Homo sapiens: one gene and its partners. The protein of the gene in region 2 purifies or fractionates together with the protein of the main gene of each other region. This does not show direct contact. Each region holds a gene or a part of one and is shown on either strand. Other genes may lie near its edges. The genes, in order: YME1L1, PDP2, CLPX and AFG3L2.

The links.
Region 1: the proteins of PDP2 (region 2) and YME1L1 purify together in Homo sapiens (affinity purification with mass spectrometry; one large-scale study listed by BioGRID and IntAct). This does not show direct contact.
Region 3: the proteins of PDP2 (region 2) and CLPX purify together in Homo sapiens (affinity purification with mass spectrometry; one large-scale study listed by BioGRID and IntAct). This does not show direct contact.
Region 4: the proteins of PDP2 (region 2) and AFG3L2 purify together in Homo sapiens (affinity purification with mass spectrometry; one large-scale study listed by BioGRID and IntAct). This does not show direct contact.

What each region holds. Positions count from the first base shown.
Region 1 is NC_000010.11:27,119,476-27,124,351, forward strand, and holds part of YME1L1 (ATP-dependent zinc metalloprotease YME1L1), read right to left. Parts: intron 4,225-4,876; coding exon 4,072-4,224; intron 3,499-4,071; coding exon 3,366-3,498; intron 1,974-3,365; coding exon 1,911-1,973; intron 1,073-1,910; coding exon 960-1,072; intron 1-959. UniProt on the Homo sapiens protein: ATP-dependent metalloprotease that catalyzes the degradation of folded and unfolded proteins with a suitable degron sequence in the mitochondrial intermembrane region.
Region 2 is NC_000016.10:66,878,399-66,884,067, forward strand, and holds the start of PDP2 ([Pyruvate dehydrogenase [acetyl-transferring]]-phosphatase 2, mitochondrial precursor), read left to right. Parts: upstream 1-2,116; 5' UTR 2,117-2,242; exon of another isoform or gene 2,243-2,383; intron 2,384-4,616; exon of another isoform or gene 4,617-4,704; intron 4,705-5,669. UniProt on the Homo sapiens protein: Mitochondrial enzyme that catalyzes the dephosphorylation and concomitant reactivation of the alpha subunit of the E1 component of the pyruvate dehydrogenase complex (PDC), thereby stimulating the conversion of pyruvate into acetyl-CoA.
Region 3 is NC_000015.10:65,157,843-65,162,718, reverse strand, and holds part of CLPX (ATP-dependent clpX-like chaperone, mitochondrial precursor), read left to right. Parts: intron 1-73; coding exon 74-115; intron 116-3,967; coding exon 3,968-4,144; intron 4,145-4,808; coding exon 4,809-4,876. UniProt on the Homo sapiens protein: ATP-dependent chaperone that functions as an unfoldase.
Region 4 is NC_000018.10:12,352,366-12,357,241, forward strand, and holds part of AFG3L2 (mitochondrial inner membrane m-AAA protease component AFG3L2), read right to left. Parts: intron 4,467-4,876; coding exon 4,329-4,466; intron 794-4,328; coding exon 640-793; intron 1-639. UniProt on the Homo sapiens protein: Catalytic component of the m-AAA protease, a protease that plays a key role in proteostasis of inner mitochondrial membrane proteins, and which is essential for axonal and neuron development.

The DNA of each region.
Region 1 (4,876 bases), on a different chromosome or scaffold from region 2:
AATAAGTCTAAAACAGGTAAAAGAAAGCTCTTCACAAAGAACTCACATTCCAACTGGGTGCGTTGGCTCATGCCTGTAATCCCAGCACTTTGGGAGGCTGGGGCAGGCAGATCACCTAAGGACAGGAGTTGGAGACCATCCTGGCCAACATGGTGAAACCCCATCTCTACTAAAAATACAAAAATTAGCTGGGCATGGTGGCATGCACCTGTAATCCCAGCTATTCAGAAGGCTGAGGCAGAAGAATCACTTGAACCCGGGAGGTGGAGGTTGCAGTAAGCCAAGATTGTGCCACTCCACTCCAGCCTAGGCAAAAAGGGCAAAACTCTTGTCTCAAAAAAAAACCAAAAAAAAAAAACACCTCACATTCCAAGGGAAAAAAGAAAATAGCTAGCTATTCTGAGCCATAGTTTAGTCACTTTTTCTCTGAATTTCATCTGGAAATACTTTAGACATAAAAGCTGCCCTTATAGGAAACATGTATAGTTTAATGAATTGATACAGCTATCTCTGAAACTACTGCAGCTTTAATAATTTCATTTATTACTCAAGTGAGTAATAAATTTCCATGTGTTTTGTTTTATAATTTGCTTTCTTCTCTTTTGGCCCCACACTGACTATATCATGAGTTACTGTTTCTGCAGCTTTTTTAAATTATTTTGCATTTTACATTCATCTTAAAAAAATGTGTGTGTGTGTATGTATATGTATGTATCCTCAAATATTATCTGTCTGAATACTCTAAAAAAACCTTTCTTTAGACTCAGGGTTCAAAACAATAGAATCTCCTGGATATACACTAAGGAATGGACTTTTAAACGAACATACTAATGGAAAAAAAAAAGACAAAAATGAACTGGTCTTTTAATGTTAATACATGTATCATGAAAGGACCACAAACAGGGTGAGTGGTATATTACCACTTTACAGAAATGACAAATGTTTGTTTTGATACTTACATTGATCAAACTTTATTTTATTGAGATACCATTTCAAAATTTCTGTTCGACCTTTTACATCTGGCCTTGGAACTGTAACTTGCATGTCAAAACGACCAGGACGTATTAAGGCACTACAGGAAGAATGCAAAAGGAAAATATAAATTAAAACTATTTAAGCTCAAATTCAACAGGACTGACACCCTAATGACGTGACTGGGAAGCCAATGGCAGCCAGAGCGCAGATGGAGTTTTGTACATAAATATTCAGATAGTTCCTTTAAAACATGGCTCAAGTAACAGTGTCAATAACCAGAAAGCAGAACAAAGGTTCATTTAGATACACGTGTGTACCTAGGTAGCCTACCCCTCAGAAACAAAAGCATGCAGGTAATTCAGTCCAGGAACAAATAATTCCACAACAAACTATTATGAGAACCACACATCCATCTCAACTGCTAAGTACAGAATGTTAGACTAGAGTCTTAGGCAGTGACAAACTACTGATCAAATGAAAATACGAATAACTTCTACAGTAAAATTTTTTCATAGTAACTTTAAACCTAGTTATAATACTACAGTTAATTTATTTTAAAAACCCTCTCTACATACAACTTTTGTGACATATAACAAATAAATATTTTAAGTTTTATTGAGATGTAATTCACATAATTTAAAGTGGATACTTCAGTGGTTTTTAATACATTCAGAATTGTACAACCATCACCACAATCTAATTTTAGAATATTCCCATCCCCCACAAAGAAATCCCATATCCAATGACAGCCATTCCCCATTCTCCCTAACCTCTGGTAACCGCTAACCCAATTTGTCTCTGTGAATTTGCTTATTCTGGATATTGCATATAAATGGAATCATACAGTGTTGATGTGATCTTTTGCAACGGACTTCTTTTAGCACAATTTTGTAGCATGTAACAGTACTTCACAAAAATCTTCTTTTAATACTTACTTATCTAATGCCTCTGGGAAGTTTGTGGCTCCTATTATGATAACTCCTTCATTGGGTTTAAAACTATATTGGAAAAAAAATAGTATCTTTTACTAACACTGAAGCACAGCACACATGTAGAAATGCTCTACACAAAACTGGTTTGTTTTCTTTTTTTGAGACTAGGACTCGCTTTGTGGCCTAGGCTGAAGCGCACCAGTATGATCATAGCTCACTGCTGCCTCAAACTCCTGGGTTGAAGTGAACCTTCTGCCTCAACCTCTCAAGTAGCTGGAATGACAGGTGCATGCCAACATATCTGACTAATTTATTTTTTATTTATTTTTAAATCTTTTCTCCCCAATTTCTAGGTACAAGCCACTATTTTTTTTTTTTTTTGGAGATGGAGTCTCACTGTCACCCAGGTTGGAGTTCAATGGTGCTCACTGCAACCTCCATCTCCCAGGTTCAAGCAATTCTCATGTCTCAGCTTCCTGAGTAGCCAGGATTACAGGCGCCTGCCACCACACCCAGCTAATTCTTATATTTTTAGTAAAGACGGGGTTTCACCATGTTGGCCAGGTTGGTCTTGAACTCCTGACCTCAAGCAATACACCCGCCTCAGCCTCCCAAAGTGCTAGGATTATAGGCTTGAGCTACTGTGCCCGGTGACTGTTTTTATTTTTAGTAGAGATAGGGTCTTGCTATCTTGACCAGGCTGGTTTTGAACTCCTGGCCTCAAGCAATCCTCCCACCTTGGCTTCCAAAAGTCCTGGCATTACAGGCGTGAGCCACCATGCCCAGCTTCATTAATCAAATAACAGCCAAGAAAAGAAACTGATAATAAACCACCAATTCATCTCTGACTACATACCTTCACAATTATCTGGTCTATGCAGGAAAAGATAACCTGATATAAAAAGCTTAGGTGCCTGGTTAATTTTTGAAAAATTACTTTCAAGTATACCAATTCAAATTATTTGCTCCTGGGCTTCCTATGTGGTTTCAAAATGTCTTATATTGAGTTTTAAGATACTTCTTTCAAAGCAACATCACCTCTTGCTTCTTATATTATGAACATTGATGTAAGCTTTAAATCTGCCACAACACTCAAAGTTAGTCATAAATTATGTAGAAACAACTGTATTTCTTCAAATAGACTACTAGTCTCGGCATAAATCATTGTTTTTCTGTCATAAGTGTAACAATAAATGAGAAAGGATATAAATACCATAAATTAAATAAGATGAGTTGATATTCAAATATCCAGTTAGTAATGAAAACAATACAATACTGAGAGAAAAAGCTTGTCTTGAGTTCTTGCATGAGGGACTACTCTGTTTCCTATACACATCACATTTTTCATATCTCTAGATATGAAATGCCTTATGGAAATAATTTGCATAAGATCAATTCTACGTATATCAAATGCTGGGAGGCATCACCATATTCTAAGAAAAAAGAAGACTCAATTACCCATCCATTTCAGCAAGAAGTTGATTTATGGTCTGCCTTGAATATGGATGCATTGGAGATTCAATTCTCTTCCCACCAACAGAATCTAATTCATCAATAAATATAACACAAGGAGCATTCGCCTTTGCTTCCCCTAAGAAAACAAAAAACATTCAAATAAGCTGAAAGAAAGTCAACACTTTTGAACAAAACGAGATAAATATTAAAATCCTATACAACTGTCAAAAGCCAACAAAAAATATTCACTGAAAGAAAAGGACGTCATTTTTTACTGACTTAAAAATAGTATCTTCAGGGGGGAAAAAACTATACCAAAGAAATGATATAAAACAAAACAGTTGGGCATTCATTCATTCTTTCCAGCTATACAAATATATACAATCAGGTTTGAAGCTAATTACTCCTTAATTCCATACTACAAAATTGATGAATAAAATGAAAAAACACTAAGAGATTTTTGGTAGCCTCCAACTTCATCTTGCACTTCCACTAGCTCTTCCGATAATTCATATAGTAAGTTACCCAAACCAAGGTCCCACAATGGCTATTTTAACTATCAATCAAAACTAATTAGCATGCAAAGCTGGAGGCCCCAAAAAATAGAAATTAAAAAAAGGAAGAAAAAAAGTAATTAGCAAAGAAAGGGTAAGATACACACTTCCCTTAACAAAATTTAGCACTGCATCAAAGATACACCAAAACGTACTAAAAAGATTTCTGATACGGCTGGCTCCCACACCCACAAACATCTCATCAAATTCGGATCCAGAAGCATAATAAAAAGGAACATCAGCTTCTCCCGCCACAGCTCGGGCAAGAAGTGTCTTTCCAGTCCCTGGGGGTCCAACTAAAAGAATTCCTAAAAGAAAATGAAAACGAGAATGATTCAAAGTATTTTTAAAAAATCCCTCGATATGAACCTATAAAATAAATAATTATTCATTTATATAATTTTCAGGCTGAGGTCACACCAATAACCAATATTTTGAAACACAGCAAACCGTACTTGTCTCTGCTAATGGTTCACTTCAGAATCTTGTCCAAAATTAATGTTCCTGTATTATATAAATATTGTTTCCATATCAACAAGAGACATGACAGGGAGAATCTTGAGGCAAAAAAATATAAACCCATTTATCACTAAATAAGATAAAATTCATGTAAAAATAGATTAAAAGACTAAACAACCAAATGTAATTAGTGAATCCTGATTTGATGCTTTTTCATAAAGAACAAAAAATTCTAGAGACATCTGGTGAAAACATTTAAACAAGACTGAGAGTACATGATATTAAGGAAATAGGCATAATTTCCTTTGGTGGGATAAGGTTATTATGTTTATTTAGGACACTGTCCTTATTCTTAGGTGATGTACAAGAAAGTCTTTAGATGTCAAGTAGTTGACGTTTATAGTTTTCTTTCAAATGTTCAGGGGGAAAAATACACACATAACACAGAAAGCAAATATGACAGAATGTTAACAATTGTTGAGTCTAAGTGGATAGGATATG
Region 2 (5,669 bases):
GGAAGAAGTGTGCTTTTGCATTCTCTTGCACTCATTTATTAGAAACCCTTAGACTTTTTTTTAGTTTGGGTCTGAAACAGTCCTCTTAATATGCAGGAAGAGAGATATTGCCAGTCCTGACTTTGAACTTCTGGAAAGGGCTAAGGGTGAGTGGAACTATAAATATACAAGGGCAAGTCTGACATGAGCAGTTTTATTGTGACCACGTCCTTGGGTCCAGGAGGCTGGCCAGGCTGCCCAGGTAAGCCAGGGTGTCTTCCTTCTGGAAAACCACACTCTCAGGGCTCCAAGTGGCTTTTTCTGGTTGTCTCCCATTTTTCTCTGTCTCCAGGGAAGGACTCCATCTGACTTACCATAGTTACAAGAGTTCTGTGAAAATAATTTATAAGGAAGCAGGTCATCACTGGAATGCCACAATGTTAGGACCAGAAGGGACGGAGGGATTATCTGGTGTCGGGGTTCGCTGTCTCTCTCAACCTACCAGCCGCCAGCCGTGCTGAGTTAATTGTCAGTAGCAGGCCAATATAATGGTCAGTTCAAAGCTTAATGGTTTGTGGGAAACCACTAAAGACTTTAGGGCAGGAGGCCGGGCGCGGTGGCTCACGCCTGTAATCCCAGCACTTTGGGAGGCGGAGGCGGGCGGATCACGAGGTCAGGAGATCGAGACCATCCCGGCTAAAACGGTGAAACCCCGTCTCTACTAAAAATACAAAAAATTAGCCGGGCGTAGTGGCGGGCGCCTGTAGTCCCAGCTACTTGGGAGGCTGAGGCAGGGGAATGGCGTGAACCCGGGAGGCGGAGCTTGCAGTGAGCCGAGATCCCGCCACTGCACTCCAGCCTGGGCGACAGAGCGAGACTCCGTCTCAAAAAAAAAAAAAAAAAAAAAAAAAAAAGACTTTAGGGCAGGAATTTGAGGGTTTTTTTGGTTTGTTTTTGTTTCTGTTTTTGTTTTTTTTGAGACAGACTCTCACTCTGTCTCCCAGGCTGGCGTGCAGTGGCATGATCTCACCTCAGTGCAACTTCCACCTCCCTGGTTCAAATGATTCTCATGCCTCAGCCTCCCAGGTAGCTGGGACTACAGGCGCGCACCACCACTCCCAGCTAATTTTTGTATTTTTAGTAGAGACGGTTTCGTGATGTTGGCCAGGCTGGTCTCAAACTCCTGACCTCAGGAGATCCCCCCGCCTCGGCCTCCCAAAGTGCTGGGATTACAGGCAGGAGCCACCGCACTCGGCCTTGGAATTTGAGTTTTAGAAGTGTCATTCTGCCAGGCGTGATGGCTCACGTCTGTAATCCCAGCACTTTGGGGAGGCTGAGGTGGGAGGATTGCTTGAGCCCGGCAGTTTGAGACCAGCCTGGGCAACATAGAAAGACCTTGTCTCTACCCACCAACCACGAGAAAAGGTGGGAGGGGCGTCATTCTGGCTGCTCTGCTCTGTGGTTAGGACCAAGTCAAAGGTGGAGGAGGGAAAACCGTAAAATCAAGTGAGAGGCTTGGAATAGGGTGGCTGCGTCGCCGGATGGATGAGTGGAGAGAGATTTAGGAGATAGGATTTACAGCATTAGATAACTGGAAAGAGAGGGTGAGGGAGAGGAAGGAGTCAAGATGCCTCCCAGGGTTTTGGCTTGGGTCTCTGGGCAGATGGTGGGGCCATTACTGGGTTAGGAGAGAAGAGAAAAAGCAAGTTTGGCAGAAAGCTGAGTTTGGGGTAAGTTATGTTTGAGGCGCCTGGGGGCCTCCAGAGGCAGGTGTCCAGGTGGCTGGACATCAGGGTGTGGCGCTCAAGAGAGGGTTCTGGAGTGGTCGACACCGAAGTGGAGAGGAAGCAGTGAGGTGTTCTAACAACGGTGAGGAATTGGGGAGGCCGCTGGGTTCGGGGTATGCAGAGTGTAGCGGCCACGTAGCTGGCGATCTCAGGCACGTGACTGCCTGGTCCTGTGGCCCCGCGCTCGAACACTTTCAGCACCCAGGCAGGGGGTAAGGGGCGGTGTTGCCCCCTCCCGGGTCCCGCCTTTCTGCCCGCCTCTCATCCTCTTTAGCCATTGGGCAATACCTCTGTCCATCAAGGGCCCGCCTCCGCAATTGAGCCAACCAGGGCTGGCGGGAGGGCGCTTCCTTCTGGAGCTGGGTCCTGACTAGGGACCGCCTGGGTGAGGTGAGGACCTGGTGGCCGCAGTTGTGGCACTGTGCGCAGGCGCTGAACTGACCGGACGGAGCGGGCGGCTGTGGCCTCGCCAGCTGGTGAGAAGCGGGCGAGGGTCCGAGGTAGGGAAGGTAACGAGCGGGGGATGTGGACACCTCTTTCCCCGCCAGGCCTCGCCGGCGCCTGACCCTCCCGGCCTGCGGCACCGGCTCAGGTGACTGGGCGGAGGGAGAGCTGAGGTGAGGGGGCGGGTCCGCGGCGGAGAGGGACCAGCTGGGCCTACGACCACGGTCACCCCACTCACGTGCGCGCGCCACGTGGGCCCGCGGGCTCGCCGAGGACCCTTGGCTGCCTACCGGGGCACCCCACTAGCTGCTCTGGCCTATCGAGCACCCCTTGGAGCTCTGTGTCCCGACTGCACGCCCCTGTTTTACAGGCTGGCAAGCCGGGGCTCAGAGGCACCAAGCGGGTCGCCCGGGGGCACCCAGCTGGGGTACGGCCGTGCCGGGGTTCTAGGGAGATCGGTTTTGGTGGGCTCCGGAGTCCATGCACTTAGCGATGAGGCTGAAGTCAGAGATTTGAACTTGGGACCTGTCTGTTTTCTTTAAGGATGCAAGAGGGTTTGCGTCCTGGCTGCGGTGTATCACCCTGCACCGCTGCCTGCCTTGACTGCAGGGCCGGAGCGTCAGGCGCCCTCTGCTCCCGGACAGACCGCCCCCGCACCGACTTCTGCGGGGTGGGCTGGCAGGGGGTGGGGGAGTGAAGGGACGGTCCTCAGTCCTGGGAACTCTTGAGGTCCCGACAAATGATCTCGAGATCCCGAGGGCAGGATTCATACATGAAAAGCTCATTATAATGGGTCAAGGTTTTGTTCTGTTTTTTTTTTTTTAATTTAATTTAATTTAATTTAATTTAATTTAATTTATTATATTCCAAGGAAAAGTACCACCAGGGCTAGTGAAGGGACTAGGAAACTCGTCACCCCCTTGAGGAGGCAGATGTGAAGCTTTTGGAAATCAGTTTGGCAATGAGTCTACACCCTTGGACCTACTGACTCCTTGTTTGGGAAATAACTAGGATAAAACCTAAGTAGAGAAAAGGTTACTGCATAAAGCAGTACAGTTTGGTGGGGTTTTGTTGTTGTTGTTGTTTTTAAAGAGACAGATCTGGCTCTGTCGCCCAGGCTGGAGTGCAGTGGTGTGATCATAGCTCACTGCAGTCTTGAAATCTTGGGCTCAAGCGATCCTCCCACCTCAGCCTCTTGAGTAGCTGGGACTACAGGCACTTACCACCATGCCCAGCTAATCTAAAAATTTTTGTAGAGATGGGGCACTTGCTGTATCACCCAGGGTGGTCTTAAACTCCCTAGCCTCAAGTGATCCTCTTGCCTTGGCCTCCCAAAATGCTGAGATTATAGGCATGAGCCACTGTGCCCAGTCCAGTTTGGTATTTTATATTAATAAATAGCAAGTAGTAGAAACAACCTCTAAATTTCCAGCCGTAAAGAATAGTTAAGTAAGTTGTGATTATTTATGTCAAAATGTAGCCATCAGATGTGAAAAAATACTCTTATCAGGAAAGCCAGATTCAAAGTTGGGGTTACAACTCTACAAAAATACGTACAGAATGACTGTGCGCAGTAGCTCCCACCTGTAATCTCAGCACTTTGGGAGGCCAAGGGCGGAAGATCGCTTGAGCCTAGGAGTTTGAGACCAGCCTGGAAAACACGGGGAGACCCTGTCTATTAGCTGGGCCTGGCGGCACATGCCTGTAGTCCCAGCTATGTAGGAGGCTGAGGCAGGAGGATCCCTTGAGGCCAGAAGGGCAAGGCTGCAGTGAGCCACGATCTTACCATTGCACTCTAGCCTGGGGACAGAGCCAGGCTCCATCTCAAAAACAAAACAAAACAAAAAAAAACCAAACAAAAAATACCCAGAATGACTTAGAGGGGTATATACCTAATGATGAAAATAATAGCTACTTTTTTTTTTTTAGCAGAAGCGTCATATTTTATTAAATTCTCACAAAACCTTCTAAGACTAATATTCCCATTCCACCAATAGATAACTGGAGTGTTACCTCATCAGCAGTGTGTCTGATGCTACACAAGATAGTATCACAGCTAGTGTGCTATTGGGCCTCTGAAAATGTCATATTTAGCCAGTATTTGAGGACTTAGTGTGTGCCGGGTACAGGGCCAGGCACTGGAAAGCTGTTGGTGAGTAAGGCAGCCATAGTTGCTTGAGTCATGGAGTTTATAGACTAGTGGGGAAATATACATGTATATAAAATTTAGTTTTTGAGACAGGGTCTTGCTCTGTTGCCCAGGCTGGAGTGCAGTGGCAGGAGCACAGCTCATTGCAGTCTTGACCTCCAGGGCTTAAGCAATCCTCTCACCTCAGCCTTACAAGTGAATGGGGCTATAGGTGTGCGCCACCATGCCCAACTAATTTGTAAAAAAATTTTTTGTAGAAACCAGGTCTCCTTATGTTGCCCAGGCTGGTCTTGGAACTCCTAGGCTCAAGTGATCCTCCCGCCTCAGCCTTTGGAGTGGTTACAGGTATGAGCCACTATGCCCGAAGCAGATTATTTATTTATTTATTTATTTTTGAGACGGAGTTTCGCTCTCGCCCAGGCTGGAGTGCAGTGGTGCAATCTTGGCTCACTGCAAACTCTGCCTCCTGGGTTCACGCCATTCTCCTGCCTCAGCCTCCTGAGTAGCTGGGACTACAGGCGCCCATCACTGCACCCAGCTAAATTTTTGTATTTTTAGTAGAGACGGGGTTTCACTGTGTTAGCCAGGATGGTCTCGATCTCCTGAACTCGTGATCAGCCCACCTCGGCCTCCCAAAGTGCTGGGATTACAGGCGTGAGCCACCGCGTCAGGCCTGTTTTTGTTTTCTTTGAGACAGGGTCTCACTCCCTCTCTAGTGAGGCCCAGGCTAGACTGCAGTGGCACAATCACTGCTTTCTGCAGCCTCAACTTACCAGGCTCAGATGATTCTCCTACCTCAGCCTCCCAAGTAGCTGTGACTATAGATACACACCACCATGCCTGGCAATTTTTTTATTTTTTTTATTTTTTTGGAGAGACAGGGTTTCACCATGTTGCCCAGGCTAGTCTCGAACTCCTGGGCTCAAGCTATCCACCCACCTTGGCCTCCCAAAGTGCTAGGATTACAGGCATGAGCCACCAGGCCTGGCCCCCGAAGCAGATATTTAAATGAACACTTATAGTCTGCTGGTGAGAGTGAGTTTAGTGTATTTTAAATAGTTTATTCTAAGTCATTTTTGTTCAGGATATTAGCAAATGTTTTCAGAAGTCAGTATTTTTAAGAAATTAAATTTGTGGCTGGGTGCTTTGGCTCACGCCTGTAATCCCAGCACTTTGGGAGGCCGAGGCAGGTGGATCACAAGGTCAGGAGATCGAGACCATCCTGGCTAACATGGTGAAACCCTGTCTCTACTAAACATACAAAAAATTGGCCAGGTGTGGTGGCGGGCGCCTGTAGTCCCAGCTACTCC
Region 3 (4,876 bases), on a different chromosome or scaffold from region 2:
ACAGGAGGTGGGATACTCATTGTTTGTTCCCCCAAGGTAAACAAATATGTAATATTTTCATCCTCTTTCTTAGAGTTAGAAATAAGAAGACGGGAGGATGAGTACAGATTTACAAGTAAGTGACTTCAGGTCCTCCTCTGTAATCATTCTTCCTTTTGACATTTATTTCAGTGAAGTGTTTCAGCAGTAACAGTGATAGACATGTATGTATTTGCTTGTGTATTACCAAGAAAGATACGTATTATCTAAATGTGTTTATCCTACATGGTATATATAACTTTGGAATAGTTTTTCATAGCTAATTTGTGTCGTTTCCATATGTTGGGTTATTTTTTATTTTTTCTATCAAACTACAATTAGAGTTGGCCTGCTTCTTGTGGGTCACAGGAATTTGGGGGAGGCAGATTATTTTCTAGCTACTCTTTGCCAGAAAGCACACTGTTTTTTGGTTTTTTTTGTATTTATGAAACTTACAGTCTTACAAATTATGAGTAAGTCTTAATTCACTGTTTCCAGCCCCAGATTGCCCCTACAAGCATCAGATGGTCCGATGGAGGGTGTGGAAGGACTTGATAGACCAAGGAGAGTGGCCTTTCTGTTGTGTTCCACCTATTCCTTTGGAGGTGGATATAGTTAGTTGCTGCATTGAGGGTGGAGGTTCCAGGGGTGTCATAGAAAGATTCACATGGCCTTTTGTTTTAGTAATTGAAATAAAGAAAATTAGCTAAGTTTGATGTTTTTACATTTGCCTTTGAACCAAGTAGTATTATATATCCACTATTTGAAGTGTACTATATATAGGATGAGCCATGAGAATATAACTTGTGTACCAACTTGGGCATGACATTTATCACATGTAATAAAATTACATTATCCCCAGTTATTTTTAAATTTATAGAAATACTGATTATACCATGCGTGGTAAAATTAAGAAATACAGTAAGTGCAATAGAATTAGATTGTATATAAGAATGTAAAATCTAAATAATAACCTTTAGGTATATATGTAATTTATTTCATAATAAAAAAATATATTCAGATATGCAGTCAATACCATACTCATAAATTGTGTTGACAGCTAGTTAACCTATACTAAATTAGTAAAGAAAGTCTGTAGTGCATATTTTGAAAGACATGTCATGTAATATATGTAGTGATTTAATGTTATTTAAATGTTAACAAGTAACAGTATTTAAGAACTTATGTAAAAGATTGACTTAGAAACAAATATTTCAAAAGCTTAAATTTATTGTCATGTGCAGTTTTGTTGTGTTTTACATGGGATTTTAAGTTCTAAAGTTAGGTTGTTAACTAACACTGGCTGGGGGTGTTAGACCCTAACACTGGTCTAGGGTTTTAGACCAAAATCATGTACAATAAGATTAATTCTTATAAGTCCCTTTGGAAGTCAAATTTTAGAGACCAACATACAGCTTTTAGGAGGACTGACACAATTGGCTTTTTTTCTCCATCTTTGGAATATAATGTTGTTTTTTAAGTTGAGCACCAGATGAAATACTTTGTTTGCGTTTAAGGGCTGTGTTGTGTGAATAATTAAACACTAGGGAAATGGTAATAATAATACCAGATTCTTCTGTAACACTTATAAAACTATCTGCCAGGTATTGTTCTAAGTGTTTTGCATATATTCATTTAATCTCCCCTAAACCCATGAGACAGAAACTATTATTTTTATCTCCATTTTAGAAGTAAGAAAACTGAAACACAGAAATTTTAAGTAATTTGTCCGTGGCCACACAGCTGGTGAGCTCTGTGCAGCTAACTACTACACTAGCCTGCTTGCTCATGGTCCTCATTTTAGAGAGCTGTGCTTACACAGTGAGAGATGCACAAACAGGGACTAACTGAAAGAATCGGAGAGTTGTCTCAAGTTTGTTCTAAGGCATATACTCATAAAATGGGATGATGGATATCATCTGTATCATTTAAATTATTTCTTTTTTAAACTTAAATCATTAAATAAGTTAAATACATAGATTATGTGGTTCCACTGTAATTAATATGCCCCTTGCAATTTTGTTCATTTATTCATCTAAATCGTGTGTGTGTGTGTGTGTGTGTGTGTGTGTGTGTGAGAGAGAGAGAGAGAGAGAGAGAGAGAGAGAATGAGTGAATGACAAGCACCTGCTGGCCTTGCTGATCTGAAGCTACATCTAAATCATTTTTTCCCTTTGGGCAGAGCTAAACTTAACCCAAGCCCCTTCCTATGTTATCACAATCCCTAACCAGATTTTGCTGAAATTTTAAAAAGTACTTTGCTAGTGACAATTTAACTATCCTCATACAGCAGACTGAGTTTTCTTGGCTGATGTGGATTATAATGAGGCACAACATTGTGAATTATTCACTAATTATTAACCCTCAAAGGTAGCACAATTTAATCCAGATGTTTATGGAATGCTTATTGTTTTTGATGAATAGAATAACCCTTTACCTTAAGTATGAAGATAGTTTGAAAGTGACAGCCAGATGGAATAGGACTATGATAATAGATATGTCTGCCAAACTATTATTCTATCAGTTTAATTAAAATAATCATTGGAAAGTCTGATTTTCTGAATCAATTTCTTAGAAAATAAAATTTAGGCCAGGCGCGGTGTCTCATGCCTGTAATCCCAGTACTTGGGGAGGCTGAGGCGGGTGGATCACCTGAAGTCAGCAGTTCAAGACCAGCCTGGGCAACATGGCAAAACCCCGTCTCTACTAATAATACAAAAATTAGCCAGGTGTGGTGGCGTGTGCCTGTAATCCCAACTACTCGGGATGCTGAGGCAGGAGAATCACTTGAACCCAGGAGGCGGAGGTTGCAGTGAGCTGAGATTGCACCACTGCACTCCAGCCTGGACAACAGAGAGAGACTCTGTCTCAAAATAAAAAAAAAAAAAAGAAAAGAAAATGTAAAAATAAATTCAGGAAATATAAACAAGTATGTTGTGATAACAGGTACTCAAATGCTAAGAACCAAGAACAATCTGAATATTTACAAATCTGGATAATCTTTCCTTCAGCCAAGAGAAAGTGAGAATAAAGATTTATTTATTTCATTTTTATTTTGTTTTGTTTTATTTTATTTTAATTTTATTTTTTTGAGACAGAGTCTTACTCTGTTGCCCAGGCTGGAGTGCAGTGGCGTGATCTTGGCTCACTGCAACCCCCGCCTCCCGGGTTCAAGCAATTCTCCTGCCTCGGCCTCCCAAGTAGCTGGGACTATAGGCGCGTGCCATCACATCTGGCTAATTTTTTATTTTTAGTAGAGATGGGGTTTCACCGTGTTGGCCAGGCTGTTCTCAAACTCCTGACCTCAGGTGAGCCACCATGCCTAGCCTAAAGATTTATTTTTGTAGGAATCTGGCTGATAAACTGATAACCTCACTAGCAATGTCAGTCCCATCTAGTCATTAGCAATGTCAGTCACATCTAGTTAAGTGTTATGTCTCTAATAAAGGAAATAGAAAGATCCAGTACAGGTCCAATAAAATTAGAGATTTAGATAGGGCCAGAGATAGTAAGGTGTATCATATTTGGTTTCTCTAGTAGATTTTATTGATTAGGAAACAGGAACATAAAGTTTATATGACTTGCCCTAGATCATGTAGCTTCTACTTAGAGACAAAGGAAGGTCCAGAGCTAAAGCTTTCTAACTCCTGGCTCTGCTCTTCTGTTGTATTGCCTTCCCTTGGGTAAAGGAGTATTCTTACATATTTATATAAATAAGGACAGTAAAAAAAATCAATTTCCTTTGCTTGAGGTTCTTTATATAATCATTGTGTGCTATATGTTTGTCACTAGATAATTTGAGATTTTTCTCCTTTGTAGGTAAGACAGAATGTCAAAATACTTAAATTTTTCTATGTCGATATTTAGTTTTAGATAAAAGTTTTTATGGGACATTTTCTTCAAGTAAATTCAAATGAAGCTCAAGTAATTCCTTTGGCATTTTTTTCAGAATTGCTTCAGATTGCTGGAATTAGCCCACATGGTAATGCTTTAGGAGCATCAATGCAGCAACAGGTAAATCAACAAATACCTCAGGAAAAACGAGGAGGTGAAGTATTGGATTCTTCTCATGATGACATAAAACTTGAAAAAAGTAATATTTTGCTGCTTGGACCAACTGGGTCAGGTAAATAACTTGCTGAGAAAATTTACTACTCATTTTAAAAATCAGAATATAAATGATTCTATAACCTGTATCTTGCGATTGAAGTATTACGGCTCTTGAGAAGAAAATCTAAGGCCAGTCATCTAGATACACTATCAGTATTCCTGCATAGAATACAAACTGGATTTGAGGCATTGGTGTTGCCCTTCAGGCCAATCCCTAACATCTTCACAGGAATAATAAAATAAAAAACAGCTATATCTAAATAATAATAGATCGGATGTAGTGGCTCACACCTGTAATCCCAGCATTTTGGGAGACAAAGGTGGGAGGATCACTTGAGGCCAAGAGTTTGAGACCAGCCTAGGCAACAGAGCAAGACTCTATCTCTATAAAAAATAAAGTATTAGTTGGGCGTGGTAGCACATGCCTGTAGTCCTGAGGCTGAGGCAGGAGGATCACTTAAGCCCAGGAGATTGAGGCTGGAGTGAGCCATGATCACAGGCTGCACTCCAGCCTGGGTGACAGAGCAAGAACCTGTCTCTAAAAAAAATAATAGCAGAGGAAGGATGTAGCAATTGACAACTTTTTATTATATACTACTAAAATTTATTTTGCATTTTTATTGAAAAATTGTGTGCCAATATATTTTCAGTAAACTTTTAGTGACTGTTTCTATTTGTAGGTAAAACTCTGCTGGCACAAACCCTAGCTAAATGCCTTGATGTCCCTTTTGCTATCTGTGACTGTACA
Region 4 (4,876 bases), on a different chromosome or scaffold from region 2:
CTTCCCCTTTCTGCACAAACAACCAAGCATCCACATTTTTATCTTCCAGCAGGAAGAACACATGACATCCTGAGAAGTGGCTTTCCTAAATGAAATAAAAGCTGGCTAGCATGGAAAGACTGCTACTCTCTTAGTAAAAAAGTATTCAAAATTTGCTAAATTCACACTTGGTTAGGCTTAGATTTTCCTTATGCTTCAGAGATGGTGATGATTTAGAGAATGAGATGGTAATTCTTTTGTGACTCATTTCACCAATTCTTCTCTTATTCAAACACCAGACACAAACAGCATGTTAACACCGATATTAAGTTATGCAGGCTGCCAGGAAAAAATATTTTGCTATTATTTGTATTAGTATAAAAGGGCCTTTTAAAAGAGCTGTTTGTTTTAGGGAATGCTTTTTTTTGTTTGTGATACTCAATATTGGAATAAGGACTCTCATTTTGGGGACATGAAAGGCATAAAAAGTGCAGCTTAAACTCAGGAGACTGAGGCAGGAGGATCGCTTGAACCCAGGGGTCAGAGGATGCAGTGAGCCGAAATCACACCACTCACTTCAGCCTGGACGACAGAGTCAGACTCCATCTCAAAAAAAAAAACAAAAGTGCAGTTAAAGATACAAAAGCCTTGACCACTCACCATCCATCTCCACCAGCAGCTGGTTGAGTGTGTTCTCCTGCTCACTCTGCCCTCCAAAGTTGCCTCTTCCTCTCTTCCTTCCCACCGCATCGATTTCATCGATGAAGAGGATGCAAGGGGCATTCTTCCGAGCAAGGGCAAATAAGTCTCGGACCTTGGCAAAAACAGAAAGAGAGTCACCTGACCAGAGAATATTATGTATTCTCTGAATAAGAAATGAAATAAATCGGCCGGGCACAGTGGCTCATGCCTGTAATCCCAGCACTGTGGGAGGCCGAGGCTGGTGGATCACCTGAGGTCAGGAGTTCGAGACCAGCCTGACCAACATGGAGAAACCCCATCTCTACTAAAAATACAAAATTAGGCAGGCATGGTGGCGCGTGCCTGTGATCCCAGCTACTCAGGAGGCTGAGGCAGGAGAATCGCTTGAACCTGGGAGGCAGAGGTTGCAGTGAGCTGAGACTGAGCCATTGCACTCCTGCCTGGGCAACAAGAGCGAAATTCTGTCTCAAAAAAAAAAAAAAAAAAAAAAAATGAAATAAATCTTCAGCTTCCCGTCCCATGTGCAGACAATCTTTTTGTGATACACACTGTAAGGTACATTTTTTAAAAGAGTTACAAGTAGCAAAGCAGCAGCAAATGAGGAGTAACCTGGGTAACCGACTTAAGGTGAGCAAATCTTTCTCAGATCCCATAAATTACTGTATATGTAATAAACACTGATAATATCTGCTATTTTTGTAACATCAACAAATTAACATTACATATATACCTAAACAAAGACAACACAGTAGAGCTGTAAACTTTACATTCAGTTGAAAAGTTCAGACTTCTCTAGAGTTCACATTTCATGCCTAACACAGTTATTAACAAGCTGAGGCTACTAAGGAGTCTATGCAATCACACATATACAGTGAAGCCAAAGACCATCCAAGCCCATCAGCTCATCCCCAAAGAGGGGGTGACAGCCTTCGTCTGCCACCCACCCCACCACAGACCATCCTGATAGCACATACCCTCAGACAAACCTGCAGTCAGGAAGAGGAGGAAGAGCCACTCAGCACCTCACCATCAGTCACCTGCCCCTTCAAGGAGAATCAGAGACAACTCTCCACCTGCCCACTCCCACCCCCCCCCCCCCACTTCACTGGACAGAAGTCCAGGTCTTCCTGCCTGGATTTCTGGATGTTCATTCCTACACTGCTCTGAACACATCCCCTAAAATAACTGGTATCCTTCTCCAGCCTCCCCTCTGAATTCCAGATCTGTGACCTACAGACCCACACCTTCATAGTACATCCATCCCATCCCGGCATGAACAGGAACTCAGCCATTCCAGCAAGCCTTAAGCAGGAGTCTGCATCTTCCCCTACAGGCTAACTGGAGCTGGGGTCCACCTCACACCCCACTGCTGCTGCCAAAATAACTGCTGGAAAAGCCCCTGCTTGCTGAGGCTCAGGCCTTGTGGCAGGCACTCCACCCCACTGTGCCATGGGTCTCCCCCAGCCTGACTGCCACTAGGCATGATGTCCTCAGTGATTTCCATCCATGTGGCTCTCGGTCTCTCAGTTCCCTGACCACCCCTTCATTCACCTTTTACTTCACTCTGACAAGACCAGCACTGCCAAGGTTGCCTTTTAAACCACCATCTTCAAGTCATCTACTCTCTGAGCACCCCCTCCTATCATCTGGACCCACAGACACACTCAGGTATCTCACGCCAACTCTTTACCACTTCTCAGCTCTGCAACCCACCAGGCCCACCCTTCCCCACCACCCCCCACAGCTCCTCTCCTGTCTTCAATTTCCCCCCATCCACTTTATATCTCATGGCCCATCATCATTAACACCCAACTCCCCCTCATTCCCTATTTTTCTATGACTTATCTGCACAACAACAGCAAAGTGTGAAATAGATGTGAAGGTGAGGCCGGACAAGGTGGCTCACGCCTGTAATCCCAGCACTTTAGGAGGGCAAGGCAGGGGGTGCATCACCTGAAGTGAGGAGTTCAATACCAGCCTGGCCAACATAGTGAAACCCCATCTCTACTAAAAATACAAAAATTAGCTGGGCATGGTGGTGGGTGCCTGCAATCCCAGCTACTAGGGAGGCTGAGGCAGAATCACTTGAACCCGGGAGGCAGAGGTTATGCCGCTGCACTCCAGCCTGGGCGACAGAGCAAGACTCCATCTCAAAAAAAATTAAAAAAAAAAAAAAAGAACTCTTACAATTCAACAACCAAAAAAACCCAATTAAAAAATGAGCAAAGGATCTGAATAGACAACTCTCCAAGGAAGATATACAAATATACAAATGGCCAATAAGCATATACAAGATGTTCAACATCACTCCTCATCATGGAAATGCAAATCAAAACCACGAGATACTACATCACACCCACTAAGGTGGCTATCATCAAAGTGTTGGTAAGGGCGGGGAAACATCAGAACCCCTTACACATTGCTGGTAGGGATGGAAAATGGGCAAGTAGTTTGGAAAACAGTCTGGTGGTTCCTTAAAATGTTAAACATGGAGTTACCATTCAAAAACATGTTAAGTGAAAGAAATCAGGCATAAAAAAACCACATATTGTATAATTTCATTTACATGGAATGTCTGTACTAGGAAATTCCTTTGGGTAGTTTGCTTAGGACTCCCGATTTACATATTTTTTTTTTTTTTGAGACGAGTCTCACTCTGTCACCCAAGCTGGAGTGCAGTGGCGTGATCTCAGCTCACTGCAAGCTCTGCCTCCCAGGTTCACGCCATTCTCCTGCCTCAGCCTCCCAAGTAGCTGGGACTACAGGCGCCCGCCACCACGCATGGCTAATTTTGGTTTTGTTTTTTTAGTAGAGATGGTGTTTCACCATGTTAGCCAGGATGGTCTCGATCTCCAGACCTCCTGATCCGCCTGCCTTGGCCTCCCAAAGTGCTGGGATATCAAGTGTGAGCCACCACGCCCGGCCACGATTTCTTCTTGATGTAATGGAAATGTTGTAAAACTGATTGTGGTGATGGTTGCACAAATCTGTGAATTACTAAAAGCTACTGAACTGTATACTTTACAGGGATCAATTGTTTGGTATGTCAATTATATCTCAATAAATGTTGTCACCAAAAAAAAAAAAAATCCACAAATAAAGCAAAATTTTTTTTTTTTTTTTGAGACAGCGTCTCACTCTGTTGCCCAGGCTGGAATGCAGTGGTGTCATCTTGGTTCACTGCAACTTCTGCCGCCTGGGTTCAAGAGATTCTCCTGCCTCAGCCTCCGAAATAGCTGGGATTATAGGCATGCGCGACCACGCCTGGCTAATTTTTCTATTTTTAGTACAGACAGGGTTTCGCCATGTTGGCCAGGCTGGTCTCGAACTCCTGACTTCAAGCGTTCCACCCACTTCAGCCTTCCAAAGTGCTGGAATTACAGGCATGAGCCACCGCGCCCAGCCGTCAATTCTTTAAATTGGTCTACTATAGGTAGCAGACTGCAGTCCTAGCTGGTGCGAGGGAAGGTGGGGTGGAAGTCACAGGCCTTGCTGAAGTCTTAGGCCTGGAGGAGAGCTCAGGCCAGGGACTGGTGAGAGGTCACTCTAGCACTCTAGGGGGAAGGGCCATCTCTAGCAAGTGCCTCCATCTGTGGTGAAGTGGTGGGTGCAAGGAAGCTGTACCATCCGAACAGAATGAGACTCACTCTAGCAGGGCCCACACCAACGAACATCTCCAAAAACTCAGATCCACTAACGGTGATGAAGGGGACATTGGCTTCTCCGGCTGTGGCCTTAGCTAGCAGCGTCTTCCCAGTGCCTGGAGGACCAGTGAGAATGGCACCCTTCAGATATGAAAAAAGAAATTACATTTAATGAGAATTCCAGAAAAGTAAATTGTGTATCCACAAATAATTACAAGATATAACTCTGTCTCTAAATCTTATTGATATATATTAAATATTACTTAAACATCTGAGCTATGGTAGAACATTTTTATATTAGTAAGAATAAAAAGATTATCAAAAATAATTTTGTTTCAAAAAATTTGGTAAGAATGTGAAATTTAAAATATTTCCTTTTTTTCCTAGGGCTGATTTTTAGACCTTTAGTCTAACAGTATGTAAAGGGTGACTTGGGCTAGGAATATACTAATAAATCTGCTAAGGTTTACTTAAATAATTTAAGAAGACACCAACACCACACTCCTGATTTATGTAATTCTTTTACTCTTTACAAGTAAAATTGGTTTTTG